Linked DNA regions of Homo sapiens. The main gene of each other region encodes a partner of the protein of the gene in region 2 in a complex. Each region holds a gene or a part of one and is shown on either strand. Other genes may lie near its edges. The genes, in order: SNRPD1, PPIH, USP39 and PRPF6.

Evidence for each region.
Region 1: PPIH (region 2) and SNRPD1 share a complex: the UniProt entries of both Homo sapiens proteins name them as parts of the U4/U6-U5 tri-snRNP complex.
Region 3: PPIH (region 2) and USP39 share a complex: the UniProt entries of both Homo sapiens proteins name them as parts of the U4/U6-U5 tri-snRNP complex.
Region 4: PPIH (region 2) and PRPF6 share a complex: the UniProt entries of both Homo sapiens proteins name them as parts of the U4/U6-U5 tri-snRNP complex.

The regions. Positions count from the first base shown.
Region 1 is NC_000018.10:21,622,284-21,629,572, reverse strand, and holds part of SNRPD1 (small nuclear ribonucleoprotein Sm D1), read right to left. Parts: intron 6,849-7,289; coding exon 6,772-6,848; intron 5,826-6,771; coding exon 5,634-5,825; intron 512-5,633; coding exon 435-511; 3' UTR 1-434. UniProt on the Homo sapiens protein: Plays a role in pre-mRNA splicing as a core component of the spliceosomal U1, U2, U4 and U5 small nuclear ribonucleoproteins (snRNPs), the building blocks of the spliceosome.
Region 2 is NC_000001.11:42,661,389-42,668,677, forward strand, and holds part of PPIH (peptidyl-prolyl cis-trans isomerase H), read left to right. Parts: intron 1-3,474; coding exon 3,475-3,567; intron 3,568-4,591; coding exon 4,592-4,679; intron 4,680-5,158; coding exon 5,159-5,199; intron 5,200-5,962; coding exon 5,963-6,031; 3' UTR 6,032-6,052; intron 6,053-6,658; exon of another isoform or gene 6,659-6,763; intron 6,764-7,289. UniProt on the Homo sapiens protein: PPIase that catalyzes the cis-trans isomerization of proline imidic peptide bonds in oligopeptides and may therefore assist protein folding. Participates in pre-mRNA splicing.
Region 3 is NC_000002.12:85,632,951-85,640,239, reverse strand, and holds part of USP39 (ubiquitin carboxyl-terminal hydrolase 39), read right to left. Parts: intron 4,188-7,289; coding exon 4,110-4,187; intron 2,872-4,109; coding exon 2,804-2,871; intron 1,038-2,803; coding exon 849-1,037; intron 1-848.
Region 4 is NC_000020.11:63,977,313-63,984,420, forward strand, and holds the start of PRPF6 (pre-mRNA-processing factor 6), read left to right. Parts: upstream 1-3,819; 5' UTR 3,820-3,933; coding exon 3,934-4,004; intron 4,005-5,734; coding exon 5,735-5,903; intron 5,904-7,108. Other genes in the region: SAMD10 (sterile alpha motif domain-containing protein 10), read right to left, coding at 1-94, 933-1,032, 2,542-2,682. UniProt on the Homo sapiens protein: Involved in pre-mRNA splicing as component of the U4/U6-U5 tri-snRNP complex, one of the building blocks of the spliceosome.

The DNA.
Region 1 (7,289 bases), on a different chromosome or scaffold from region 2:
CTGTATCTCACTTCCATTTTCCATACATCACTTTCCTTCTGTCCATAAATCTTCAACTATGCAGCTGGGCTGAAGCCTCTGAGCCTATTATGGTTCAGGGGCTACCTGATTTGTGAATTGTCCTTTGCTCAATTAAACTCTGCCAAATTTAATTTGTCTAAGGCTTTTATTTTAACCTTATTCATCATAAAAAGAAAAAGAAAAATTTTAGTTCAAAAACTTAAAACCTGATCAACTAAAAATGAAACTGCCCAGTAGAAATGCTTAGCTCTCACTGTGGTAATTTCGTGAATGTGGAGGAAACTACTAAAACTTTGATATACTAAATAGACAGCTCTGTCCCACATTTATGTTTATTAAAAACTGACATAAACAAACACAACCTGTACAAAAAATATCCCAAATCTCATATGACTTTGAAATCTTGAGAGACATTATCGCCTAGGACCCCCTCTTCCTCTGCCACGGCCACGTCCTCTTCCTCTTCCTCTTCCTCTGCCTCTTCCTGCAACTGAAGGAAAAGAAAAACAAACCAAGTTCAATTCTCTCCTGCACCAATGTTACCTAGACACCACAAACAACATTTACACACACACCTTTCCCTGTTTATAGCTCTTTATTAGTAGCTACAGTAAATAAAGTTTAACTAGCTTCTGTTAAATGTGTTAGACTTCAGATTCCCTCCACCCCCCAACACATTATCATGCAGAACCAATAACTAAAGGCCTAGGGAGATTATTATTTGTTTCATTTCAATTTATTTACTAAGAAATGTGTCAAATTTAAAAATACTTTTTCTTTATATCATGTCTCAAATTCACCATAAAATGATTTGAACCTCACAAAAAAAGGGAAGATATATATCACAGAATAAAACATGATCACCTTGATGCCAGAGTTTTGGTAACTGAATAAAATCCAAGCAAGTTAATTCAAAACCAGGAAAGTTTAAATGTATTACATCAAATCACAATCTTATTAACTCTTCAGAAAATTAAAACTCATTTGACCTACACATAATCTAGTGCTTTAATCCAAATAGTAATATCCCTACTGGGTCATCCTAACTCTAGTTGAGTATCATGGTGATAGGGAATTCATGACCCAAATAAACTTATTTCATCTTCAGACAGCTAAGAATATTAGAAAATCTTGACATAGAAGTCAGTCACATTCTAAATGTTTTTGTTTTTGTTTTTTAAATACAGGGTCTCACTCTGTAGTCCCATCTGGAGTGTAATTACACCTCACTGCAGCCTTGAACTCCTGGGCTCAAGTGATCCTCCCATCTAAGCCTCCTGAGTAGCTGGGACTACAGGTACAAACCATCATGTCTGGCTAATTTTTAAAATTTTTGTAGAGATGAGGTCTCCCTTTGTTGCCCAAGCTGCTCTCAAACTCTTGGGCCAAAGCAATCCTCCAGCCTCAGCCTCCCAAAGTGGTGGGATTACAGGTGTGAGCCACCGCACCTGGCCACATTAGAAATTTGTACACACTGATTCTAGTCTTACCATTCTAAGCAATAAATAGTAAGTTTAAGATGCTAATTAAGGGACATTTCACAAAATAACTGGCCCGTACTCTTACAAAGTATCAAGGTCACAAAAGGAAAACTGAGGAGAACCAGCTGATACGCATTAAAGGAAACTAAGGAAACGTACAAGTAAATGCAACCTGTTGTACTGGATTGGATCTTGGACCAGGAAAAGGACATTAAAGGGACAATCAGAGAAATGTGAGAAAGGTCTCTAGATAATACAGTAGTGACACATCAATGTAAAATTTCTAATTTTTTGTAGTTATATGACATTTTAACATTTAGACAATCTTGGTGAAAAGTGTATGGGAATTCCTTGTACTATTTTTGCAACTTTTTGTGTCTAAAATTATTTCAAAATGAAGTGTTTAAAAAAATAAAGAAAATGGGAAAAACAGAGTTGGAGGGGTGTTGTAAAACAACAACAACAACAACAACAAAAGGGCTGGGCACCTGTAATCCCAGCTACTTGGGAGGTTGAGGCAGGAGAACTGCTTGAACCTGGGAGGCAGAGGTTGTAATGAGTGGAGATCGCGCCATGGCACTCCAGCCTGGGCAACAGAGCATGACTCTGTCTCAAAAAAAAAAAAAAAAAAAAAAACCCAAGAAAAGAAAATGGACCAGGTATGATGGTGGCTCACACCTATAATCCCAGCACTTTGGGAGGCCACAGCAGGAGGATTGTTTGAGACCAAGAGTTCAAGACTATCCTGGACAACATAGGGAGACCCTGTCTTTACAAAAAAATAAAAAATAAAAAATTAGCCAGGTTTGGTGGTGCATATCTGTAAAAAAGAAAGATAAATTAAGAAAACAACTGCTCACTGCAATCTCCGCCTCTCGGGTTCAAGCGATTCTCCTGCCTCAGCCTCCCGAGTAGCTGGGACTGCAGGCGCCCACCACCACGCCCAGCTACTTTTTTGTATTTTTAGTAGAGATGGGGTTTTACTCTGTTGGCCAGGCTGGTGATCCACCTGCCTCGGCCTTCCAAAGTGCTGGGGTTACAGGCGTGAGCCACCGCGCCCAGCTGCTGCTTCTTTTTTTTTTTTTTAAAGAAAGAAAATAAATGTTTATTCAAAAAAAAAAAAAATCCAAACATTTGGGAGGCCAACGCAGAAGACAGCCTGAAGCCAGGGGTTTGAGGCTGCAGTGAGCTATGATCATGCCACTTCACTGCAGCCTGAGCAACACAGTGAGATCTTGTCTCTTACCAAACAAACAACAAACAAAACAATTTTTTTTTTTTTTTTGAGACCAAGTCTCTCTCTGTTGTCCAGGCTGGAGTGCAGTAGTGCGATCTCGGGTCACTACAACCTCTGCCTCCCAGGTTCGAGCAATTCCCTGCCTTAGCCTCCCGAGTAGCTGGGATTATAGGTGACCGCCACCACACCTGGCTAATTTTTGTATTTTCAGTAGAAATGGGGTTTCACCATTGGCCAGGCTGGTGTTGAACTCCTGACCTTGTGATCCAGCTGCCTCAGCCTCTGAAAGTGCTGGGATTACAGGCGTGAGCCACCACACCTGGCCCAAACCAATAATTTTTAAATAACTCCCTAACACTAGACTATGACAAACTTGAAACGAAGACTCATTTTCATTATTTAATTTGTTGTAGTTTCCTTTTTTTTTTTTTTTTTTTTTGGCGACAGGGTTTTACTCTGTCACCCAGGCTGGAGTGCAGTGGCGTAATCTCGGCTCACCGGAGCCTCCATTTTCTGGGTTCAAGAAATTCTCCTGCCTCAGCCACCCGAGTAGCTGGGATTACAGGCATCTGCCACCATGCCTGGTTAATTTTTGTATTTTTAGTAGAGACAAAGTTCATGCCATGTTGCCCGGGCTGGTCTCGAACTTCCGAGTTCAGGCGATCTGCCCGCCTCTGCCTCCCAAAGTACTGGGATTACAGGCATGAGCCACCGCACCTGGCCAATTTCAGTTATTTTAAACCGTACTATTTTAAATGTGTACACACAAAAACTGTAAGTCTAGAACACGTTAAAATGGGCCAAATTGACCACACTTACCTTCAATTTCTTCTGAAATAGTATTTATGATAGAAAAGGAACAAAAATGATAACTACCCAGAGGAACAAAGAAAAGCAGAGAAAACACAGTAGATAAAAGATTTTGGGCCAGGCACCGTGGCTCACGCCTGTAATCCCAGCACTTAGGGAGGCCCAGGCAGGCGGATCATGAGGTCAGGAGATCGAGACCGCTTGGCTAACACGGTGAAACCCCGTCTCTACTAAAAATACAAAAAATTAGCCGGGCGTGGTTGCAGGCGCCTGTGGTCCCAGCTACTGGAGAGGCAGAGGCAGGACAATGGTGTGAACCCGGGAAGCGGAGCTTGCAGTGAGCCGAGATCGCGCCACTGCACTCCAGCCTGGGCGACAGAGTGAGAGTCCATCTCAAAAAAAGATTTCGGCTGGGCGCGGTGGTTCCTGCCTGTAATCCCAGCACTTTGGAAGGCCGAGGCGGGTGGATCACTTGAGGTCAGGGGTATGAGACCAGCCTGACCAACAGGATGAAACCCCACCTCTACTAAAAATACAAAATTAGCTGGGTGTGGTGGCACACACCTATAATCCCAGCTACTTGGGAGGCTGAAACAGAAGAATCGCTTGAACCCAGGAGGCAGAGGTTGCAGTGAGCTGAGATCCTGCCACTGCACTCCAGCTTGGCTAACAAGAGCGAAACTCCATCTCAAAAAAAAAAAAAAAAATTTTTTTCAACAAAATTTTAAATAGAAAGTAGACTGGGAACTGTAACATTTAGTAAAGGAAGAATAACTTCTGAAAAATCTAAGATTCAGAAGCGTGGAGTAAGATGATATGAGGCGGGGGGCTTTCAATCATCAATTCCCCGACAGGTAGGTAGGTAGTAAAAAAAAAAATGTAGAATAACCCTAACGACATTAAAGCAAAACATCCTCAGATTTGAAAATACAGCCAGCCTTCAATATCCATGGGTTGCACATCCATGGATTTAACCAACTGAGGATCAAAAATGTAGTTTAGGCCTATGATGGTTGTATCTGTACTAAACACATACAGACTTTTTCTTGTCATTAACGCCTAAACAATACAGTATAACTATCTACAGAGCATTTACATTATACTAGGTATTACAAGTAATCTAGAGATGATTTAAAGGGTACAAAAGGATGTGCACTGAAACACTACTACCATTTTATGAAAAGGGACTTAAGAATCTGTAGATTTTGGTACCCACAGGGGGTTTTTTTAAAGTGGAAAGCAGCATGAGATAAAGGACCGAGAGAGAGATTAAATCATTGTTTTTCAAGCTATGGATTACAATCATATATATATATATATATTTTTTTTTTTTGAGACAAAGTCTCACTCTGTAGCCCAGGCTGGAGTGCAGTGGCGTGATCTTGGCTCACAGCAACCTCCACCTCCCAGGTTCAAGTGATTCGTCTGCCTCAACCTCCCGAGTAACTGGGACTAAAGGCACGCACCACCACGCCTGATTTTTTTTGCATTTTTAGTAGAGAGGGGGTTTCGCCATGTTGACCAGGCTGGTCTGGAACTCCTGGCCTCAGGTGATCTGCCCACCTTGGCCTCCCAAAGTGCTGGGATTACAGGTGTGAGCCACCCTGCCCGACCACATCGATATTTGTTGTTTGGTTTTTTTTTTTTTTGAGACAGTGGCTCTGTCACCCAGGCTGGAGTGCAGTGGTGAGATCTCGGCTCACTGCAACCTCCGCCTACTGGGTTCAAGCGATTCTCCTGCCTCAGCCTCCCGAGTAGCTGGGATTACAGGCACCCGCCACCATGCCCAGCTAAGTTTTATATTTTTAGTAGAGATGAGGCTTCACCATGTTGGCCAGGCTGGTCTTGAACTCCTGACCTCGTGATCCACCCGCCTTGGCCTCCCAAAGTGCTGGGATTATAGGCGTGAGCCACTGCGTCCGGTTGCTCAATGTTTTTAATAGCAACACCAAGAATTACTATACATACTATAGGAAATATTAAACAACAAAGACACTTGTGTTGTTTGCAAATAATATCTATATTATGAATAGTGTGGATTAGGATTAGCATTCACAAAAATGTTTATAATCCTTCAAACTTACCAGCTTCCCTTTTCTTAGATTTCACCTTAGGTTCAACATCCACAAGTAGTGTATCCAGAGGTAAACTGTCTGGTAGAATAAAATACCGAATGTTATTTCCTCGAATACTCAGCGTTTCCAGCTGTACAGGTTCTCTGTTCTTCAGGGTCATTTTCACAGCTTTAAGATGTGTATTCATGCTGACATCCACACCTAAAGAGGAAAATAATTGTGCAGTTATTAGTATGATACAAGTTAAGGCAACTAATTAATCTACTGAGCCACAGTAAATACTGGACTACAAAAGATTACTGTTCTTCTACAAAGTGCAAGTTTTCTATGACACAATTTAGCACATGTGCAACTGGTAAATGGGGGAATGTCAGCAGTGTTTCCTTCCTAGAGATTTTTCCTAGCACACTAATGTTTTGCTTACAGAAGTGAATGCAGCAAGCCATGGAAGAACCCTGACTGGGCTTTAGGCTCACTACTGATGTGACAGGTATTTCTTTCATGTTTCTCCCACTGTCTTTGTAACTTCCTCATAATCCCCATTCCACCAAACTATCCTCACCTTTGTTTCTGCTTCTCTCTGTATATAAGAATTGTTACTGCTTTTGTTAAGATGGATCATGAGGTCAGGAGTTCGAGACCAACCTGGCCAACATGATGAAACCCCGTCTCTACCAAAAATATAAAAAATTAGCTGGGTGTGGTGGCACGCACCCATAACCCCAGCTACTTGGGAGGCTGAGGCAGGAGAATTGCTTCAACCCGGACCCGGGAGGCAGAGGTTGTAGTGACCTGAGATTGTGCCACTGCACTCCAGCCTGGGTAACAGAGTGAGAATCCGTCTAAAAAAAAAATTTACCCGGGCATGGTGGCAGGCACCTGTAGTCCCAGCTACTTGGGAGGCTGAGACAGGAGAATTGCTTGACCCCAGGCGGCGGATGTTGCAGTGAGCTGAGATCGTGCCACTGCACTCCGGCCCAGGTGACAGAGCAAAACTGTTTAAAAAAAAAAAAAAAAAATTACATAATTCAGACAAAAAAAATAAGGATTTGTACTACAATAATGTTCATTAAGCAATAAAAAAATAAACTCTGGCTAGGTAAAAGAGAAGAAAAAAAATGTTATAAAAGCAGTCCAACCTCCGTACCTGTGATTGTTCCATGGACCTGTGTTCCGTTCTTCAATTCAATGGTTACAGTTTCATGACTCAATTTCATCAAAAATCTATAAATAGGAATAAAACCATTTTTACCTGTAACACTTTAAAATCACATTTATTAAGGTGAAAGGGTGAAACAACTCGATGTTGAAAATTTGCTAGATGCTATCTGCATCAATTCCTATCAATAATCTGCATAACAATTTCAGCTTTCCTGAATTATATCCTCAACCTTTATGAAGGAACACAACAATACTAACATAAACTGTCATTTGGACGTTTCTAATTCTCAAACCTGAAATCCAGACATACAAGATCTTAGACTCATTATAAACCATGAAAAAGAAATAGGCCAGGCGTGGTGGCTCACGCCTATAATTCCAGCAGTTTGGGAGGCCAAGGCGGGCGGATCACGAGGTCAGGAGATCGAGATCATCCTGGCTAACATGGTGAAACCCCGTCTCTACTAAAAAATACAAAAAATTAGCTGGGCATGGTGGCGGGCA
Region 2 (7,289 bases):
GCAAGAGAGGTAGATAGTTCTGGAGGAATTTTGCTCTATTCACTGAGAGAGCCCAGTGAAATAGTTCTTTTTTGCTAACCATAGCTTTCTTGTAAGTAGACTGTTTTTGTCCCCCATATGAAGCCTCCCTCCCCACCCCAACCTTGGAGGGTGTGGGATAAACTACATTTTTTCTTTCTTAAACCTGCTTTTGTCCTTACCCCCCACTTCTGAATGGTCTTTCTTTACTCTTATTAATATCATTTGGTTAGTTGTGTTGCTGTTTTCTTGGATCTGGGAGACATGTGTTCTCTTTTATGTGTTTATTTAGTCTGAATCTCATGAGTTTTTAAGACCTCTTTCCTTTCCTATGCAATACAGGGTTGCAGAGTGGCAGGTTTTAGGCCGAATTACGTTTTTACCTATGTTTTGATTCATCTGCATGGTGTTGTATAACTGTGAAATGGCACAAAAAAATCCTAGTTTTTTTTTCTCTTTAAAAAATGGAAAGTGGAAGTATGCTGGGCCTGCATTTCTCACAGTGGCAGTGACAGTGACAATTGGTTGGAATCAAGGAACTGGTCCCTTTGGACATGGCATATCTTTGCCATTTCACCAGTCTCCACAACTGTTTCCCTTATTTACGTTGCCTGCTCCTGTGGGCATTTGTTTGCAGCCCCGGGAAACAGATAATGGTAGTAGGGTTTGTTAGCTGGTAAGAAGGGCTGAGAAGCTATCCTCTGCCTTCTTTCCTTTTTTTTCCCCTAGGCTTCCCTGTTGCCTTACAAGGAGAGGAATAGCTTTTTACTAGTCTTTGCCCCAGGCACATCTGATCACTTGTCGATAACTCTGGGGTTAGACAATAGTTGCTCAGTCTGAAGGCCGAGTTAAAAGCAATTGCTGGTAGGGCTCACATCTGTAATCCCAGTACCTTGGGATGCTGGGAGGATTGCTTGATCCCAGGAGTTTGAGAACAGCTTGGCAACATAGTAAGACCCTGTCTCTACAAAAATAAGAAAAGTTATTTTTTATTTTTTTATTTTTGGTGGTGTGCGCCTGTAGTCCCAGGTACTTGGTAGGCTGAGGTAGGAGGATCCCTTGAGCCCAGGAGGTCAATTCAAGGCTGCAGTGAGCCATGTTCATACCACTGCACTCCAGCCTGGGCGACAGAGCAAGACCTTGTCTAAAGGGAAAAAAAAAAAGCTTGCTTAGAACCTTCCTTGGGGAAGGCAAAATGGAATGAGCAAGAGTCAGAAAAATCAGAATTTGAGACCTTCCAAAGTTTGACCAAGAATATTTGTTTGTTCATTTATTTTTGGTTTTAATAGTATTTATTATTTTGGTTGCAAAAGAAAAGTGCAAAGAAGAAAATAAATCACCAAATGAATTACCCTCATTCTCACCTCACAATATACTATTGGCATTTTGGTTTACAGTTGTCAGTCTTACCTTAGTATGTATATGTGTGTTTATATAATTTTTAACAGACTTAAAATAATCTATATGTTTTACTTTTTTTGTACTTCATAATTGTCCATATTTTCCCTTGTCGTTATGTCTTCTAAAACATGCTTTCTAATAGCCACCTAATATTTCATTATGAATAGACAAGTTATTTGATCAATTCACTATAGTTGAAGATAAGTTGCTTTCTATTGTTTGCTCCAAATTATTAATTTTGTAATTTTCCCTATTGTTTCTGGAGAGCTATAGATAACGTGATTACGGAGAATGGCACGGTAACTGATGTGTCCCTTAGGTTCACTGGGAAATTGGAGATGAACTTGTTTTCTCTCTTCCTTCTGTATTAATATGTATGTGTAGTTAGTTAATGACATATTAGCTTATTTGATTATTTATATAGTACTATATTGTTTGTACAGTGCTTTTTACAGACACTATCTAATTGAATCTTCATGATAACTGTAAAGAGTAGGTAATTTCATCCTCACTTGATAGATGAGGAAATTGAGGCTCACAGATTGGAAGTGACTTTCCCAGCTCTAAGTGATAGATCTGGAACTCAAATTCAGATCTTTTTTTTTTTTAGATGGAGTCTCGCTCTGTCGCCCAGGCTGGGGTGCAGTGGTGCGATCTTGGCTTACTGCAACCTCCACCTCCCGGGTGGGTTCAAGCGATTCTCGTGCCTCAGCCTCCCGAGTAGCTGGGATTACAGGTACCACCACCACACGTGGCTAATTTTTGTATTTTTAGTAGAGATGGGGTCTCACCATGTTGGCCAGGCTGGTCTCAAACTCCTGACTTCAGGTGATCCACCCGCCTCAGCCTCCCAAAGTGATGGGATTACAGGTGTGAGCCACCACACCAGGCCAGGTCTTTCTAATATACAGACTTGATTTTATTTTATAATATTTAGGCAAACAAAGGTTTGAATTTGGACAGTTTTTCTTTATTCTCTGGCTTATATTAATGGTAGTTCTTTTCCAAAAAGGGACCCTTGATTCCTCACTGGGTCAGTGTTTTCCCTTTCTCCCATGTACTCTTTCTCTTTACTAACTGGCGAGGAGAGCTTGATCTTTTTGGCACTCCTCAATATTGCCTTTAAAACTCAGGGATTCTATTTAAGGCACTGCAAATATGGCCTTGGTCAAATTGTTTTATTACCCAGACTTCAGTTTCCTCACATGAAAAATGGGGAAGATGATAATGCTTATTCCTCAAGGTTGCTGGAAGAGCAAGGAGATAATGCAAATAAAGCTAGTTTAAGCAGAAATTGGGAGTTTATAATAAAGGGAGTGTTTCATGGAACTAAAGGAAGAAATAGAACTAGGAACTAGAACCATAGAGAACCAAGGCAGTTCTTTATCTCCGTTTCTCTAGTGCTCGCTACACATCTGTGTTGTGTTCTCTCTCTGTTCTCTAGCCCAGCTTGCAAATGGTAGTCACATCCAGCTTTCAGGTTTACATGTTACAAATTTAGCCTCAAAGAGAGCATCTATCCCACCTCCAGATTCCCAGAGAAGGAACTCTAGTTGGCCCAGAGTGAGTTAGGCATCCTTCCCTAGATCAATCAACTATGACCAGGAGGGTGGTATCATGTTGTACATACAGACTGCCAAGAGCTCACCCACCCTCTTAGATAGTTTAGGGGAATGGGGTGGTAGTCACTTAAGTGGGTACTTTTATGTGACTGAAGGCATGAGAGTCTTCAGGAATGGCAAGGATTGAGTATGTGATCACCTTGTTGCTGTTCCCTACTTTGTCTGCATCTTAATTGATCGTTCTAGAGGCCCAGCTGTGACCTCTTTTATCCAGTCTATAAAATGCTCCAGCCAGTCTTTGTGGGCTGTAGGTACCTTATATAAGGCTTGATCTGATTGCAGGGTGGGGTCAAATAGGTGCAGCTTCCAAGATGACCAACAAGAGTAAGAGTAGACTTTAAAGATGTCATGCTTTAGGTGCGACAGTGTTCTTCCTCCGGTTTCCAGGGACCCAACACTCCAAGTCACTAATACTTCCCTTCTCTCTGCTCAGGGAGATGGTACTGGAGTCGCCAGTATTTACCGGGGGCCATTTGCAGATGAAAATTTTAAACTTAGACACTCAGCTCCAGGCCTGCTTTCCATGGTAAGTGAGGTCCAATCAAGGTTTTGGGTTATAGCCAGCTGGTTCCTGGGCCCCTCTTGAGGCCCAGTGCTGTCTCTTGGGATGGAAGCAAATGCTTTCCTTCTCTTGCTTGGCCCAGGACTCACCTTTACCACCTCCTTTCTTAGTCTGGTTTGACTGAGAAAACCAGTAGGTATGCTGGCTCACGCCTGTAATCCCAGCACTTTGGGAGGCTGAGGCAGGTGGATAACCTGAGGTCAGCAGTTCGAGACCAGCCTGGCCAACATGGTGAAACCCCATCTCTACTAAAAATACAAAAAATTAGCCAGGTGTGGTGGTGGGTGCCTGTAATCCCATCTACTCGGGAGGCTGAGGCAGGAGAATCGCTTGAACCCAGGACGGGGAAGTTGCAGTGAGCTGAGATTGCCCCACTGCACTCCAGCCTGGGCAACAAGAGCGAAACTCCATCTTAAAACAAAGAAAAGAAAGAAAAGAAAACCAGTAGGTAAGGCCCACTAGCAGGCTAGCAGGCTGGGGAACTAAAATCTGAACCAGGATTTGTGTCTGGGCATTCAGCCCTACTGCTCAGAATGTAAACAGTTGTGCTTTCAAGACATATTCATAGCTGGGTGTGGTGGCTCACACCTGTAATCCCAGCACTTTGGGGAGGCCGAAGCAAGAGGATTGCTTGAGGTTGAGGTCAGGAGTTTGAACAATCTGGGCAACATAGTGAGACTTAGTCTCTACTTAAAAAAGAAAAAAAAAATTAGCCAGGTGTGGTGACACACACCTGTAGTCCCATCTACTAGGGAGGCTGAGGTGGGGAGGATTGCTTGAGCCCAGGAGTTTGAGGCTGCAGTGAGCCATATCCTGTTCATCTCTGTATCCTTGGATCCTAGCTTAGGCCCTGGCTCATAATAGGTGCTAAGTTAGATTTACTGAAAAAAACCATAGAGGAATCAGTGTTACAAGCTCTTTTGGAAATCTTGCCCTTCAGCTAACATGGCCGGGGAAACTTACTGCAGGTATATTTGGTTTCCATCAGGCGAACAGTGGTCCAAGTACAAATGGCTGTCAGTTCTTTATCACCTGCTCTAAGTGCGATTGGCTGGATGGGAAGCATGTGGTGTTTGGTAAGTCCTACTCCTGTCTCATGGTCCAGGCCCCATTCACCCTGGATGGAACCTCCAGAGGAGTTAGTTCTCAAACTCTTACCAAGAAAGCTCAACCTGTGTAACTGCTTAGGTGGTAATAGAGAAAACAGAAATGGTGGGGAGGTGGGGAACATGTGTGGCTAGAGAACTAGAGGGAAGGACAAAAGGACCATTTGATATAGTATGGAACCACTTAGGGAGAAAACCCAGTTGCTAGCACCAAAGAAATGCCATAGAGGCAGCATGATACGGTGAGACTTTGGAGTCACTCAGGTATAAGTTTGAGCCCTAACTCTACTTATTACCTATGACCTTGAGCAAGTCATTTCACCTCTACCGCATCTTAATTTCCTAAAGTTAGTATGAGGGTTTAATGAGAAAATAGCTAAGAATGGGCTTTGGAAGCTGGAAAATGCTATGTAAACAAGAATAAAGTCCAGCTCATGCTCTTCCTACAGGAAAAATCATCGATGGACTTCTAGTGATGAGAAAGATTGAGGTAAGTACTGCTTTGATTTTTCTGTTTCTCTGCCATTGTGGTCTGGTACTGTCTGACTAGCGTGCAGGAGCTAGAGAAGGGGGAATGAGCTCCAGTTTGTTAGGCTGTCTTCATTGCCCCAGGAAAAGGGAAGAGAACCACCTAAGTTAGCCTGTCTGGCCAACACTGAGGTTTGGCCTCTGATGATCCTGTTGCCTACTTGATAAAATTCTACTCCTCAGCATTGCGTTCAAGGTCCTTCATGATTAGTCCCTGTCTACCTCTCCATGGCCCCTTCTTCTGCCATTGCCTCTTCCATGTTCCAGTCACATCAGGCTACTAGCTCTTCTCTAAATCTGCCATGCATGTCCCTGCTGCTTGCTCTTTCCTGCCCCTGAGCCTTTGCTCACACAGTTTCCTCTAGCCGGAATGCTCTTCTTTCCTTCCCTCCTGATGGAATCCCATTCATCCTTCTAGGCACAGTTCAAATACCCCTCTTTTGTGAATCCTTCCCTGACCTCTTTAAGCCCCAATTTAGTTGCCTATCTAACCCTTATCCAATTCTCTCTTATAACTTTTTCTTATATAATCATAAGTTTGATATTTTCTAAGTGTTTTGCATTTTCTCTTTGATAGGTATTATATGCTTTACCTGTCTGCCAGGACATGGACTGTTTCTGAGTGCTGAGTCCTTAGCACAGGGCTGGCAGGCATCAGTAAAAGTTTGATAAGGGAACGAGGAAGTGCCTGAGTGGATGAATCTCCATTGTGCTTTTTTTCCTAGAATGTTCCCACAGGCCCCAACAATAAGCCCAAGCTACCTGTGGTGATCTCGCAGTGTGGGGAGATGTAGTCCAGACAAAGACTGAATCAGGTAAGTGTGTCTTTCTCCTATTAGGTTAGGAATCAGACCTCAGAGAAGGCAGCATGGTCTAGTGGAAAGAACTTTAGTCTTGAAGACATGAGATTGAGCCCAGTTCCTCCGTGTATGGCCTTGGAGTAGTCACTTTCCTTCTCTGAGCACATTTCCTCATCTGTCAAATGGAAATACTGTAATACCTATCTCTCAGAGTCACTGTAAAAATAAAAAGAGAAAGGGTTGTAGGAGCACTTTACTTTTCTATCACTTTGTAATGTACAAAGTATCAATGTGAAAACTACTCAGGCAGTTTGTAACAGCACTCTCAGACTACAGTTCCATTCAGTAGTCCCCCTAGAAAGACCTGGCTCCAGGCCTGAGTAACTCTCTGCTGGGACCAGGCCAGGCAGCCAGGAGACACACCTGTCATGCCTCTCATCAGAACTGATACTGCAATTCCAGGCCTCGACTTCATATTCGCTGGCCTCATAGGTGAATGCCTTGCATCTTCCAGCCTACATGGACTCATTTCTTACCCGTAATTACCACTGCCTGCTCTGCGCTGGGCAGCATGCTAGCTGCAGAGAGGGGGACAAAGAATTGAAAGATGTCTCCTTTCAGGAGCTCATGGAAAGTAAGACATTCCCAGAGGTGATCACTAGTAATATGAGTGACATTGCCAAGTATGAGAAGAGTACAAGGGAGAAATCCATCACTTCCAGCCAGGTGAGGGGTAGTGATGTTTTGTTTTTCTTTTTTTTTTATTTTCAAACCTGCAAAAAAGTTAGAAGATAATACCTTGAACACCAATATATCTTCACTTAGATTCACCAATGATTAACATTCTTGTTTTATTGCTTTGCCTTGACATTTGTTTTTTTCTTTCCCTTCTTGCCTCCTCACCCATTTCCATTGCCTCTCCTCCTCCCTCCTGCTCCTCTTCCCTCCCTCCATCCTTTCCTTCCTTTCTTCCCATCTTCCTTCCTTTACCCTTTCTTCTTCTCTTTCCCATTTGAAAGTTGCAGACTTCTTGACACTTTACCCCTAAGTATTTCAGCAAGGAACTCCTAAAAATAAGAACATCCTACGTAACCACAATATTATCTAATATATAGTACATTTTCAAACCTCCCCAATTGTCCCAAAAGTAACTTTTGTAGCTTAAAAAAAGGTGATCCAATCAAGGTTCCCATATTTCATTTCATTTGGTTTACACAAGTAACATAATACACTCTCATTGTGAAAACTTTCA
Region 3 (7,289 bases), on a different chromosome or scaffold from region 2:
TCTATACTACCCCAGAGGCAGGCAGAAAGCTGAAAACAGGATATATGAGAAGTACAAGAGGGGGCACTGTGGTTGGGCAGTGGTTCACATCTGTAATCCCAACACTTTGGGAGGTCGAGGTGGGAGGATCCCTTGAGGCCAGGAGTTAAAGAATGGCCTGGGCAACAAAGTGAGCACTCTCTCTACAAAAATACTTAGTTGGATGTGGTGGAGTGTGTCTAGTCCCAGCTACTTAGGATGCTGAGGTGAGAGGATCACTTGAGCCCAGGAGTTTGAGGCTGCAGTGAGCCATGATCACGCCACCATGATCACCCAGACTAGGTGATAAAGCTAGACCCTGTCTCAAAAAATAATAAAAAGGGGCACTATAAGTTAAGAGTTGGGGGTGACCAGTGAGAAATACCAACGAGTCTGGGAGGCTCAATAAAGTCAATATAATTTATAATAAATACGTCACATACATGTGGTGATTCTTACATATAAAATGAAAATGGGCCAGGTGTGGTGGCCCACGCCTGTAATCCCAGCACTTTGGGAGGCGAGGCAGGCTGATCACTTGAGGTCAAGAGTTCGAGACCAACCTGGCCAACATGCTGTCTCTACTAAAAATATAAAAAATTAGCCAGTCATGGTGGCGGATGTCTGTAATCCCAGCTACTAGGAAGGCTGAGGCAGGAGAATCGCTTGAAACTGGGAGGTAGAGATTGCAGTCAGCCGAAATCACGCCACTGCACTCCAGCCTGGGCGACAAGAGCAAAACTCTGTCTTGAAAAAAAAAAAAAAAAGAAAATGAAAAAGTCGAGAGAGCGAGGGTAAGTATAGGCAGGGCAGGTGTGTTAATGGGCTACCTTCTCAGTGATGCCATTGAACTTAGCCAGGATGTTGAAGAGTGGCACTTGGGGAATGATGAGCTGCTCCTTCTCGTCCTTGTAGAGGGGGGCAGTAGGAAGGTCCAGCGTCAGGTACATAAAAGTGGACTCCACCATTGTCTCCTGGTACTCGTCATTATGGAGCAACTGCTCTTTTTCTTCTGCTGGCTAGAAATGAATGAGAAGAAAAGAGAGGAAAGGAGTGTGACGGGTATAGGAACCAACACAGAACCGATGTTTTACCACGCCGACATTTCCTTCATCTGAAAGAACAAAGAGAAGTGCCCGAGAGATTGGGCAGTTTGGCATGCACCACCTGGTTAGATTAACTTAAGAACCAACAGGTTTCCTTCTTTAAAGATATTTTGCTTATATACCAGACTATCTAAAAAGCCCTGAGGCCAAGTGTGATGGCTCACGGCTGTAATCTCAACACTTTGGGAACAAAGGTGAGAGGACTGCTTGAGTCCAGGACTTCCAGACCAGCCTGGGCAACACAGTGAGACTCCATCTCTACAAAAAAAAAAAAAAATTGGCCGGGCATGATGGCTCACACCTGTAATCCCAGCACTTTGGGAGGCCGAGGCAGGTAGATCACCTGAGGTCAGGAGTCCAAGACCAACGTGACCAACACGGAGAAACCCCGTCTCTACTAAAAATACAAAATAAGCCGGGCGTGGTGGTGGCGCCTGTAATCCTAGCTACTCGGGAGGCTGAGGCAGGAGAATCACCTGAACTCGGGAGGCGGAGGTTGCGGTGAGCCGAGATAGTGCCATTGCACTCCAGCCTGGGCAACAAGAGTGAAACTCCGTCTCAATAAAATAAATAAATTAATTAATTAATTAAATTAAACAAAAATAAAAATAAAAATTAGCCCGGTGTGGTGGTGTGTATCTATGGTCCCAGTTTCTGGGGAGGTTGAGGTGGGAGGATCACTTCAGCAAGGGAGGTTGAGGTTGCAGTGAACCATAATCACGCCACCACACTCAGCCTGAGTGACAGAGATCTTGTCTCAAAAAGGAAAAAAAATCCATTAAAAAAAGAAAGTGGGCCGAGCACGGTGGCTCATGTCTGTAATCCCAGCACTTTGGGAGGCCAAGGGAGGTGGATCACCTAAGGTCAGGAGTTTGAGACCATCCTGACCAACATGGTAAAACCTCTTCTCTACTAAAAATAGAAAAATTAGCCAGGCATAGTGGCGCATGCCTGTAATCCCAGCTACTTCGGAGGCTGAGGCAGGAGAATGGTTTGAACCTGGGAGGTGGAGGTTGCAGTGAGCTGAGATCATGCCATTGCACTCCAGACTGGTCAACAAGAGCAAAACTCCATCTCAAAAAAGAAAAGCTCTAAGACCATCTAGGAAGCTTAGCTGAGGGCCAGGCACGGTGACTCACGCCTGTAATCCCAGCACTTTGGGAGGCCGAGGCAGGTAGATCACCTGAGGTCAGGAGTTCGAGACCAGCCTGGACCAACATGGTGAAGCCCCGTCACAACTAAAAATACAAAATTAGCTGGGCGTGGTGGCAAGCGCCTGTAATCACAGCCACTCAGGAGGCTAAGGCAGGAGAATCGCTTGAACCCAGGAGGTAGAGGTTGCAGTGAGCTGAGATGGCGCCACTGCAACTCCAGCCTTGGCGACAGAGGGAGACTAAGAAAAACAAAAAGAAAGCTTAGCTGAGCTTTCTGAAAAAACACAGCAGCACCACCTAGTGGCCAGAACACTTAAACCAGCACAGTACATCCAACCACTAACTCCCAAACTGAAAAAGTGCACTAGTATGACAGGGACCAGGCAGAGCTGCCACTAGGCAGGTGCTTTGTTGAACCTCTTCACAGGGCAAGCAGGCTTGTCAGTTCTCTGAGCATCTCTTCATCTCCCCTACGTCCCCTCAAGCAATATGAATCAGTCCAAGACCCAGGCTCAATTAACTCACCAGATCAGGATGGGGAAGCTTTTTAGTGAAGATCCTCATGGACCCCTGGAAAACATCAGTCACAATAGCTGCACAAACAGGAAGCAAGAGACAAATTCCGTGAGGATGGAAAACATGTCTGAAGTATATTTCCAGCTTCTAAATTTCTGAAATAAACCAGCATCTTCCAGCAAAAGACACAGAGCTCTCACTAAACACAGAAGTTTCCTTTTGTACTATATACCACCAGGGTACCTTTATAATTATTTGTGTAAATAATTACTTTATTTCTCTTAAGACAACTTTTTATCCTCCATCACAGGGCCTGGTCCATAAAAGAAAAGGTAAATGTGTTCAAAATGAAGGAATGGTGATACATGAATTACAAAAAAATTCACAAGCAAAACAAGGTACAGCCAAGGAACTTCCCATAACCATAAGCTACTTTCAAAGGGAGACAATGTCCAAACTGTAATGAAGACAAGAGGACAATGACAGACTAAGAGATGGGCCAGAACAGGATCAAAGCAACAAGAGAGAAAGCACAACCAAGTTCTAGAACCCTGCCAAGACGCAAGTTAGAGAGCTCAGAGGGTTAACACAGGCTGAAGACACCTGGTAGAGAGGGCAGGGCCATCCAGTGGGAAAAGCAACAGGCCACAATCCCACATCAAGACACCATCACATCTATAATCCTAGCACTTTGGGCAGATCACCTGAGGTCAGGAGTTTGAGACCAGCCTGGCCAACATGGAGAAATCCCATCTCTACTAAAAATACAAAAATCAGCTGGGCGTGGTAGTGGGTGCCTGTAATCCCAGCTACCCTTGGGAGACTGAGGGAGAAGAACTGCTTGAACCTGGGAGATGGAGGCTACAGTGAGCTGAGACCGTGCCACTGCATAGCCTAGGTGACAGAGCAAGACTCTGTCTCAAAATATATATATAATAAAATATCATTGGGACTATAACCATATTCTAGCAAAAACTATGGAGAGGGGCCTATTCAGAAAGAACATGTAGTTTATCTATAACATAGATACTAGCCTACCCCAGATAAACAGTTAACAAAAGAATGGGAAGTTGCCTCAGCCTCCCAAGTCGCTGGGACTACAGGCACATCCCACCACACCTGAATAACTTTTGTATTTTTGGTAGAGATGGGGTTTCGCCATGTTGGCCAGGCCGGTCTCAAACTCCTGACCTCAGGTAATCCACCCACCTCGGCCTCTCAAAGAGCTGGGATTATAGGCATGAGCCATTGCGACCGACCGCAAAGTTTTTTAAAAGGGAACAAAATAACTCCTTTTTATAAGTAAATGACTTACTCTTCTTTTTCTTCTTTGTGCCCCCCAGAGCTGAGTGCAGAGCATTCAGAAACCAAGACAGAAAGTCAACGCCATCTCCTGGAAAAAAAGGAAGGGTGGAAAACGTTGAAGCTAAGTGGCATTAGAGTTAACTTAAACCATGCACTGGTTGGCATTCCTGGTTCTCCCCCTTCCTCTCTGGCCATGCCATCCCATCCCAACTGCCGTGCATCCTCCTCTATCTTATCATTAAATGCTGGCACTCCTCAAGGTCAAGCTCTCACTCCTCCGATCTTGACTCTCTCCATAGGCTCTCTGATTCATACCAGGACTGTATCGCATCACTCAGTGATGACCAAAACAAATGAATATGACCTTTTAACATCCACTTTTCTCCAGAGTGAGCTCAAACTTCCTTCTTCCCTTCTGCAGCTCATGAAGATTCCTGTCTTTTAGGAAAGTGACTAGCACCCAGACTGAAAAGGCATACAGAACAAGGGGTTCTGAAAGCAGATTGACAATATTCCATGAAAATGCTGTCTACGGAACCTGCCACTCAGACATTTCAGGGATAGTGGCTACTTTTTTTTTTGAGACAGAGTCTCACTCTGTCGCCCAGGCTGGAGTGCAGTGGCATGATCTCAGCTCACTGCAACCTCCGCCTCCTGGGTTCAAGCGATTCTCCCACCTCAGTCTCCTGAGTAGCTGGGATTACAGGTGCCTGCTACCATGCCCAGCTAATTTTTGTATTTTTAGTAGAGACGGGGCTTCACCATGTTGGCCAGGCCGGTCTCGAACTCTTGACCTCAAGTGATCCTCCCGCCTCAGCCTCCCAAAGTACTGGGATTACAGGCATGAGCCACTGCGCCCAGCCAGATAATGACTACTTTCTCTTCAACGAAGATTTGCTTCTATTTAGTTCCTCTTTGCTCACGCAATTAAAATCTCAAAGACTATAGTATATCTTCCTCAACTTCATTTCCCTAAACCCAGAGGCCTCTAACAACTCCATAGAATGATTTTCTTTTTATTCCCTGTACACAGAATGCTCTTATGTAACAAACTACCACAGCAAGAAACACTTCACACATCTAAACACTCGGCAACTAATAACCTACTAGGTCTCAGAGATGGAGGAAATTATGTTTATGTGACATCATAACTATCCTAGCCAATAGTGGCTATGACAGAAGAAACTAGACACGTTGATTCTCAGGGTACCCTGGTTTTTCTGCAACTCTACAACCCAATTATGCCCTAACTTTCCAAGCTGCCAAAAGCTGACAGGCCCCACTATCCACCTTCAGGCCATAAGTCACCTGTGGAACACAGTGAATGCTGACACTCATCCATCCATTCATGGTCCACAAAAAAATCATTCTCAACACAAATTTCTTCCTTTCTTGCAGCCTTAATATAAAACCCTGGGAGCTCAGGGAGTTGGTCCAGAAACAGAAATGTCTCTATAAACACAAGATAACCTAGCCACCTAGTTCTTGGGAATTAGATGGTCCTACAAAGCACACAAACAGGCTGTCACCTGTTTAGAAGGGTGAGGCACCCAGATTTTTTCTTCGCGACACAGCGTCTCACTCTGTCACCCAGGCTGGAGTGCAGTGATGCAACTTCAGCTCACTGCAAGCTCTGCCTCCCAGGCCCAAGGAATCCTTCCACCTCAGTTTCCCAAGTAGCTGGGACTACAGGCGTGTGCCATCATGCCCGGCTAACTTTTACATTTTTTGTCGAGAGGGAGTCTCACTATGTTCCTCAAGCTGGTCTTGAACTCTTGGGCTCAAGCAATCCTCCCACTTCGGCCTCCCAAAGTGCTGGGATTACAGGCATGAGCCAGCGCGCCTGGCCCCAGATTAAGATTTCATTGGCCATGTTGTAACCAACCCGAAGTGTATCTTATTTCCTACTAACCCTGAAACAAGTGCTCCATGGGCCCCATTCCTTACCACCTTGATTCCTCCTATTTCTCCTTAAGTACCAGAGACTCTTAAAAGCCACTACTCGGCCGGGCGTGGTGGCTCACGCCTGTAATCCCAGCACTTTGGGAGGCCGAGGCGGACGGATCACGAGGTCAGGAGATCGAGACCATCCCGGCTAAAACGGTGAAACCCCGTCTCTACTAAAAATACAAAAAATTAGCCGGGCGTAGTGGCGGGCGCCTGTAGTCCCAGCTACTTGGGAGGCTGAGGCAGGAGAATGGCGTGAACCCGGGAGGCGGAGCTTGCAGTGAGCCGAGATCCCGCCACTGCACTCCAGCCTGGGCAACAGAGCGAGACTCTGTCTCAAAAAAAAAAAAAAAAAAAAAAAAGCCACTACTCGACGTCCCCTCTAAGTCAATCCTCAGCCAGAATAATGTTTTTCTTTTTATTTTACAGACAGAGGTCTCACTCTGTTGTCCAGGCTGGAGTACAGTGGGACCAACATGGCTCACTGAAGCCTCTACCTCCTAGGCCCAAGCGATCCTCCAACCTCAGCCTCTCAAGTAGCTGGACTACAGGTACATGCCACCATGCCTGGGTAATTTTTAAAAATTTTTTGTAGATATAGGGTCTATGTCACGCAGGATGGTCTCTAACTCCTGGGCTCAAGCAATCCACCCACCTTGATCTCCCAAAGTGGTGGGATTACAGGTTTGAGTGACCATGCCCAGCTGGAATAATGTTTTAAAAACAAATTCATAAGTCTGATGTCACATCTTTGTTAAAAGCCTTCAATGAGGCCGGGCATGGTGGTTCACACCTGTAATCCCAGCACTTTGGGAGGCCGAGGCGGGTGGATCACCTGAGGTGAGGAGTTCGATACCAGCCTGACCAACGTGGTGAAACTCCGTCTCTACTAAAAATACCAAAAAATTAGCCAGGTATGGTGGTGGGTGCCTGTAGTCCCAGCTACTCGGGAGGCTGAGGCGGCAGAATAGCTTGAACTGGGGAGACAGAGGTTGCAGTGAGCCGAGATCACACCACTGCACTCCAGCTTGGGCAACAGAGTGAGACTCTATCTCAAAAAAAAATAAAAGCCTTCAATGACTCCAGCTTTTTTCAGGATATAATCCAAGCTCCTTATGGTAGCTTATAAAGCAGGCCATCTGGTCCCTCCCTCAGGATCTACACCTTGGCTCTCCACTGACCCCAGGAGTCCAAGGGTCCAGCTACTTGCAGTCTCTGACTATGCCAGGCACTTTTCTCTTCT
Region 4 (7,108 bases), on a different chromosome or scaffold from region 2:
CTGGTGCCAGGTGTCCGAGGCAAGTGGCAGGGGATGCTCTCAGCTGACACCGTGTGCTCCAGGAGGGTCCGGCAGAAGCTGAAGTGGGCAGTGGCTGTGTGTGGGGGTGCCTGGTCAGGGCAGTCAAGGGCAGAACCAGAGGCTTCCTCTACTTGAGAGCTAGCTCCCTGCCCCATCTCCTCCACACTAGTGCGGGAAATCACCTCCCCAATGAGGGGTTCCCAAGCCTCCAAAGGCAGAAGGAAGTGTGCAGGACCTGTTTCGAGGACCTCACCCAGCACAAAAAGAGAAGAACTGGAAACACCTTTCATCTTGCAAGTCTACAGCCCTCACCCAGGGGAGCAGGATGGATTCTTAGATCAGAGGATGTGCCCTCTAGGGAAGGGAACCTGAGACATATGACAAGAGGAGCTATCCTGGGACAGCCCTGACCTCACCCTTGCCTTGGGCTGGCCCACAAGTCTTGCACACACCACACCAGACCAGGAAGTGCACACACGGCCTGCTTTGAGGAAAGGCAGATCCCGAGTCCGGGGAGGTCGTCTGTGCTGGGGAAACCGGGCTGAGGATGCTGCTTGCCCATCGCCACTGAAGGCACCCAGTTCACACAGCCCTATCTGGTGTTGGGGCCCGACTCACTGACTATGACTCATTGACAGCCTGAACTGTGGGCCAACTGACAAGCAGGGCTCACTCCGCAAACACGCGCTGGGCTCTCCAGCTGTGCCGCCCCCCACAGGGCCTGCAGCCCGGGACAACACCGGCCATGTGAATGGTGGGTACCCATTGGATATGGGCGGGTCAGCACAGGTATGTGGGGTGCAGCCATTGCTTGGGGACCCACGGTGATGCTCTGTGCTCCCTCTTCCCACAGTAACTGCATTAAAGTGTTTCATCTGAGCTTTGTCATCATCTCTGGGGGCACTGCTGACCTGAGTCTGGGGAGGCAGGCGTCTTGATCCAGGTCTGGTTACAGAGGGGCACCCCACATTCATTGTCAATGAATGAATGAATGAAGGCTCTGTATGGTATCTGCAAGTGAACAGAGCCTGTGGGGAGACAGAAGGTGGGCACAGGCCTGCCCCTGTCTTTACAGCACCCTAGCACCCAGGCCTTCAGCAGGGCAGGTGAGGTTCCCACGCTAGGGCCCTCATCCCATCCACCCTAGAGTGAGAGACCCTCCCGGCCTCAGACTCAGCCACCCACTCCACACCCAGGGCAGGGGTTGGGGATGTGTCTAGGAGGTCTAAGTATCGGTGAAAACCACATCCTACTTCCCCGTCCTCCCACGCCTGTAAGACTTAGGAGACATAACACCTTCCGCCCCCATTCTTGCAACTTTCAGGAACCGGACCCCTGGGTGACTCCAAATTTGAGGTCTGGGGTCAGCAGAGGGTGTGCTCAGTGGGCCACCGCCCCGAGGTGGCCCCTAGTGCTGTGGGAAAAGGCTTATTCTAAGCCCGCGCCTTCCAGCGGACAGGCGCCGTGGTCGCCGGGCTTTGCAGGGCCTCGAGCGGCGGGGCTGGTGCAGAAGCGCGCGGCAGTCCGGGGAAACCCGTCGGACTCCTCAGCCCGCACGGCACCTGCCCCGGCCAAGCAGGCTCCGCCCATTTCCTGCCTGCACTCCCGGAGGGAGTTCCGTCCGTCCCGCGGTCTGTCGGTCCGGTCCCTCCCGCCCCAACGTCAGGATTCCAGAAGGAAATGGGGCGGGGGCACCGAGGCGGGATGTGACCTCGGCCCCCTTTCGGCCCCACTGCAAAAGCGGGGGAGGGTTTTCCCCGTGCGCAGGAAAAGGTGACCCGAGCGTAGTGCCAGCCTGGACACAGGCGCCCCGGCTTGACACCCCCTCACCCCAAGCCAAGGGCGCGCTGACCCCCAAGGCCTGAGGCTGGCTGCCCCCTAAAGCAGGACAAAGGCTACGGGACCCCGTTGAGCCGAGACATCCGCCGAATACCCCCAGCCACCGCCGCTCGAAGCCCGCCGGGTCCCGCCCCGCCCCCGTGCCTCTGGGTCCCTGAGACCCCCGCCCGAGAAATCCCCGCTCCCCAATCCAGCCCCGCTCACCGTCCACATCCCGGCGCTCCCCGAAGCCCGCGCGCACGGCCCCGGCGCGGCCACGCGGGGGGCTCAGCTTGGACCTCAGCTCGGTGAACATGGGGCCCGCGGGTGCCAGGCCCGCGCACACGCCCCTCGCCGAGTGCAGGGCGGCCGGTGTGGCCGGCGGGGAACGCGCGCCGCCGCCCCGCCCCGCCCCAGCCGGCCCCGCGCCCGAGCCGGTCCCCGCGGCCCGCGAGTGTGCGCGACGAGGCACCTGCCGCCGAGCCCTGTGTGCCGGGCGCGCTCCGGGAGCTCCGAGGTGTGTCGGCGGCGCGCGGGCCTGCGTGCACCAAGGCTGTCCGCCAGGGCGAGGGGCGTCCGTGCGCCCCTGGGCACGGCTCCGCGGAGGAGAGTCCCCGTGAACCTGCCGGGCGTCCTCTGAGGTCGGGCCCCTCTGTGCGTGGGGGTGGGCTGAGGGGCATCTCACAGGGGTCTTCTACCTACCGGGGCCAGGACAAGGGGCAGGTCAACGCCTCCCACACACTTTCCTCGGTCTCCTACGTCTTTACTCGCCTTCAAATAGGCACCCGCTTCCCCGGAGAAACCAGCTTGACTCTTGCTTACCGCCCACCCCACTGTGAACATCAGGGTGGTTCTCCCTTCCCTCTGCAGCCCCAGAACCTGGCTCAGTGCCCGGGGGAGAGGGGGCGGTACAGTGCTCTGTAACTGAAAGGGGCTTGGCTTGCCTGGAGATGGGGCAGAGGGGAACTCCAAGGAGGCTGTAGCAGGCCGGAGCGGTGTGTTTGCTCCAGGACTCCAGTGAGAAGTGCTGAGATGGGGCTGGGCTAGGGAACTGTGGTTGCCTGGTGCAGCAGCAGGCCAGGCTTGCAACCAGCTATTCGGCTTGCTCTGCCCAGGAGCCTGGGTGCTCTCCCTGGGTGTATGTAGGGGCTCTGGAGGATGTCTTACAGCAGGAGGACCAGAGATGCACACAGACATGTAGAAATGCATGCACAGAGTACAGTCATGCACTTGCACCCAAAACACGAGCACACGTGACCTCTGTGCACACACCCCACTAATCACACACACAGAATTCACCCACATGCTTGACAGCCATGTTCATGTACTGACGTGTTCCCGACAGCTCAGCTGCGGTTATTTATTTCGTCAATTAGCTCTCCAGGAGCTAAGGATGTGGCCCTCACCAGAATGTCCAAGGCATGTTGGCGGGCGTGGGTGGGGTCTCTAGTCCCACTGGAGGGACAGATGCCTGAATGGGGGTTCAAGAATATGAGTGCTAAAAGCGTAGGGCAGCAGTGTGCGCACAGGACGCACACAGACAGGTGTGCCCATAACCAGTACACACAAGCTCTACACAACTGGACAGGGTACAGCTCTGCTCGGACAGGGCGCACCAGGGGCGAGGGCGGGCAGCTGGGCTGGTTCAGAGGGAGGGGGCCATGGGTTCAGAGGGAGGGGACCATGGGTCCCACTCTCACAGACAGGTCTCCGGACTGCATCAGAGCACTCGGGAAGCAGCAATGCCCCAGGCTGTTTTTAGCCCCCAGGGGCCAGTTAGGGTCCCAGTGCAAGCTCGACCTAGCTTCTTCCGCCTCTCCACGAGGAGGCGCTCCCGCGCACGCGCCTACCACGTTCCTGCCCCCTAGCCGCGGCCGGAAGTCGTCGAACCAGGACGTCGGGACTTCCGCCCAGGGAATCAAAAGTGGGCGGGGCGTGTGCGGACTGAGCGCTCTGCTTCCGGGGCGCGGGTGACGCGACGACGGCGACACTTTGCTACGGAGTGCATCGGACGTCGAAGCCTAGAGTCTCTGCGTCTTTCCCTCTTCCGCTGCCTCATTCCTTTCCTTCCTAGCCTTGGTCGTCGCCGCCACCATGAACAAGAAGAAGAAACCGTTCCTAGGGATGCCCGCGCCCCTCGGCTACGTGCCGGGGCTGGGCCGGGGGTGAGGCCTGGGGCGGCGCGCGAGGGGCGGGGACCCGGCTACAGGAGCGCAGTGCTTTGGGGCGTGTTTGGGGGCGGGGGTCTATGGCCGCGCAGTCTGAAAGACGCTTGGTGGATCGGCTTAATCCCTGCAGGAAGCAACGGGCTTTGGGGTCAGGACATACCTGTGTGTGCACCCTGCTTGCCGCCTAGATGTGACACATTGACTCTCAGCCCAGTGTTTTGGTCTGTAAGATGGGTAATGCTGTATACGGTCTGCAGTGAGGAGTAGAGGAATCTGACGTGTAGTGGAAACACGCGACCACCTTCCTCAGGTCGGGCTGACACTCCCCCCCCCCGCCCGCCCGCCCGCCCCGCCTTAAGCGTGCCTGGGTCCTCTATGCCTGCAACACAGATGACCACCGTGCGTTGCTGGATAAGTGAGCAGTCGTTATTATCCTATTTGGCTATTCATTTGATGAGGAACACTACTGGGTTTTTCTTGGTGGTGGTATTATATTGGAATCTGTGGGGCACACACAAGCTCACTAAGGAGGGTTTGCTATTACCATAAATAAGTACGTAAAGAGGACCAGATTTAGAACCCAGTGCTTAATGGAGAGTAGCATTGGAGCCAAGTTTAGTAAGAGAGCTGGACTTAGGGCTGTAGAAACGGTGACGATAGAAGAGAAACTGACATTCTGCGTGTGGGAGTTCAAAAAAAGTGAGGCAAGGAGGAAGCCCAGGGAACAGGAGGGAGTCCAGTGTGAGTGGAATGTACAGCGAATAGAATAGAGCTCAGGAGGTTGGAGGGGCCTTGAGCGTCAGGCTAGAGCTCCTGGAGACGTTAGAAAGATCATGACCCTTCAGAATTATTATTATTATTATTATTTTTTGAGACAAAGTCTTGTTCTGTCGCCCAAGCTGGAGTGCAATGGTGCGATCTCAGCTCCCTGCAATCTCTGCCCCCCGGGTTCAAGCAGTTCTCTGCCTCAGCCTCCTGAGTAGCTGGGATTATAGGTGCCCGCTACCACGCCCGGCTAATTTTTGTATTTTTAGTAGAGACAGGGTTTCACCATGTTGGCCAGGGGGGTCTTGAACTCCTGACCTCATGATCCACCCGCCTCCGTCTCCCAAAGTGCTGGGATTACAGGCGTGAGCCACCACGCCCGGCCCAGAATTTTTTACTCAGAGCTGTGTTTTGGGAAGAATCATCTGGCAGAGCATGGGTTGAAGTAGAGGAAGGCTAAAGGCAGGGAGAGGTAACTTGGTTTCCAGCTGTGATGGGAGTCATAGTCTGGGAAGGAGGGATTTTGAAAGTGGATTCATTAGTACTTGGGGACAGACAGGATGGGGAAAGTGGGAGAGGGAGGCAAAAATTACATCATGGTCCCGTGGCATCTGGGACAGCTGTTATCAGCTGAAACCCCCCAGAGCAGCTGTAAGGTGGGCACGGAAGAGCTCAGTGTGGGCCAAGTTGGGTTTAAGGGCCTGGTTGGATGTGGAGGGGGAGATGATCGAAGCCTTAGGGTGGAGAGAGATTGCCTTGGTAACATCATCAGGGTAGGCTGAAACTTTCAGGTAAGCAGAGAAGATCAGAAGTGTTTGAGACTGCAGTTCATTGTCACCAGGATCTTTGGAGGTTTCCCAAAGGTGTTAGAAAAAGAGGTGTTAGTAAGTGATAACCAGGAGTGGAGAAGAGCACAGGAACAGAGTTATTCAGACACCCGGTGTCTTGGGGGTCTCCTGCAGCGCCACTGGCTTCACCACGCGGTCAGACATTGGGCCCGCCCGTGATGCAAATGACCCTGTGGATGATCGCCATGCACCCCCAGGCAAGAGAACCGTTGGGGACCAGATGAAGAAAAATCAGGCTGCTGACGATGACGACGAGGATCTAAATGACACCAATTACGATGAGGTGAGATGTGTCCGGCTTTCGTGGCTCCTCCAGCCAGTCTCTGGGAGCAGCTGACCTAACCAGTGTGTGTTGGTGTCTGTAATGAATGGCTTGGAGTGGCTCATGCATTTAAATTTTAGCTATTCATGGAACATCTTTACTGAGAGTGAGAGGGAGCAGGAAAAACACGGAGAAATGTGCACTTTTTGTCCCTCAGAAGAGATGTTCTTGCAGGTGTTAGGACCACTGCCTTGGCATTTTCTATTGCCCAGTCTTTTTTTTTTTTGAGACGGAATTTCGCTCTTGTCGGAAGAGATGTTCTTGCAGGTGTTAGGACCACTGCCTTGGCATTTCCTATTGGCCAGTCTTTTTTTTTTGAGATGGAATTTCGCTCTTGTCGGAAGAGATGTTCTTGCAGGTGTTAGGACCACTGCCTTGGCATTTCCTATTGGCCAGTCTTTTTTTTTTTTTTTTTTTGAGACGGACTTTCGCTCTTGTTGGCCAGGCTGGAGTGCAGTGGTGTGATCTCAGCTCACTGTGACCTCTGCCTCCCCATTTCAAGCGATTCTCCTGCCTCAGTCTCCAAGTAACTGGGATTACAGGCATGCGCCACCATGCCTGGCTAATTTTGTATTTTTAGTAGAGACAGGGTTTCTCCATGTTGGTCAGGCTGGTCTCGAACTCCTGACTTCAGGTTGTCCGCACGCTTCGGCTTCCCAAAGTGTTGGGATTACAGGCGTGAGCCACTGCGCCTGGCTGCCAGTCTTTAATGATAAAAACTTAAAGTGGAATTGGTGATAGTATTTGCTTTTTTTAGCTTTAGTGATTGCCCTCTAAACAGACATCTAAAGAAAAACTTCAGCTGACTGAATACCGATTAACTGTCTTCTAACAGATGACATTTTTCCTCTGAGGAAAATTTTTAAAAATAATTTTAGTTTTGAGGCCAGGTGCGGTAGCTCACACCTATAATCCTGGCACTTTTGGAGGCCGAGGTGGGCGGATCATGAGGCCAGGATATCGAGACCATCCTGTTTAACATGGTGAAACCCCGTCTCTACTAAAACTACACAAAAATTAGCCGGGCATGGTGGCATGTGCCTGTAGTCCCAGCTACTCGGGAGGCTGAGGCAGAAGAATGCTGTGAACCCGGGAGGCGGAGGTTGCGGTGAGCCAAGATTGCGCCACTGCACTCCAGCCTTGGCGAGAGTGCGAGACTCTGTCTC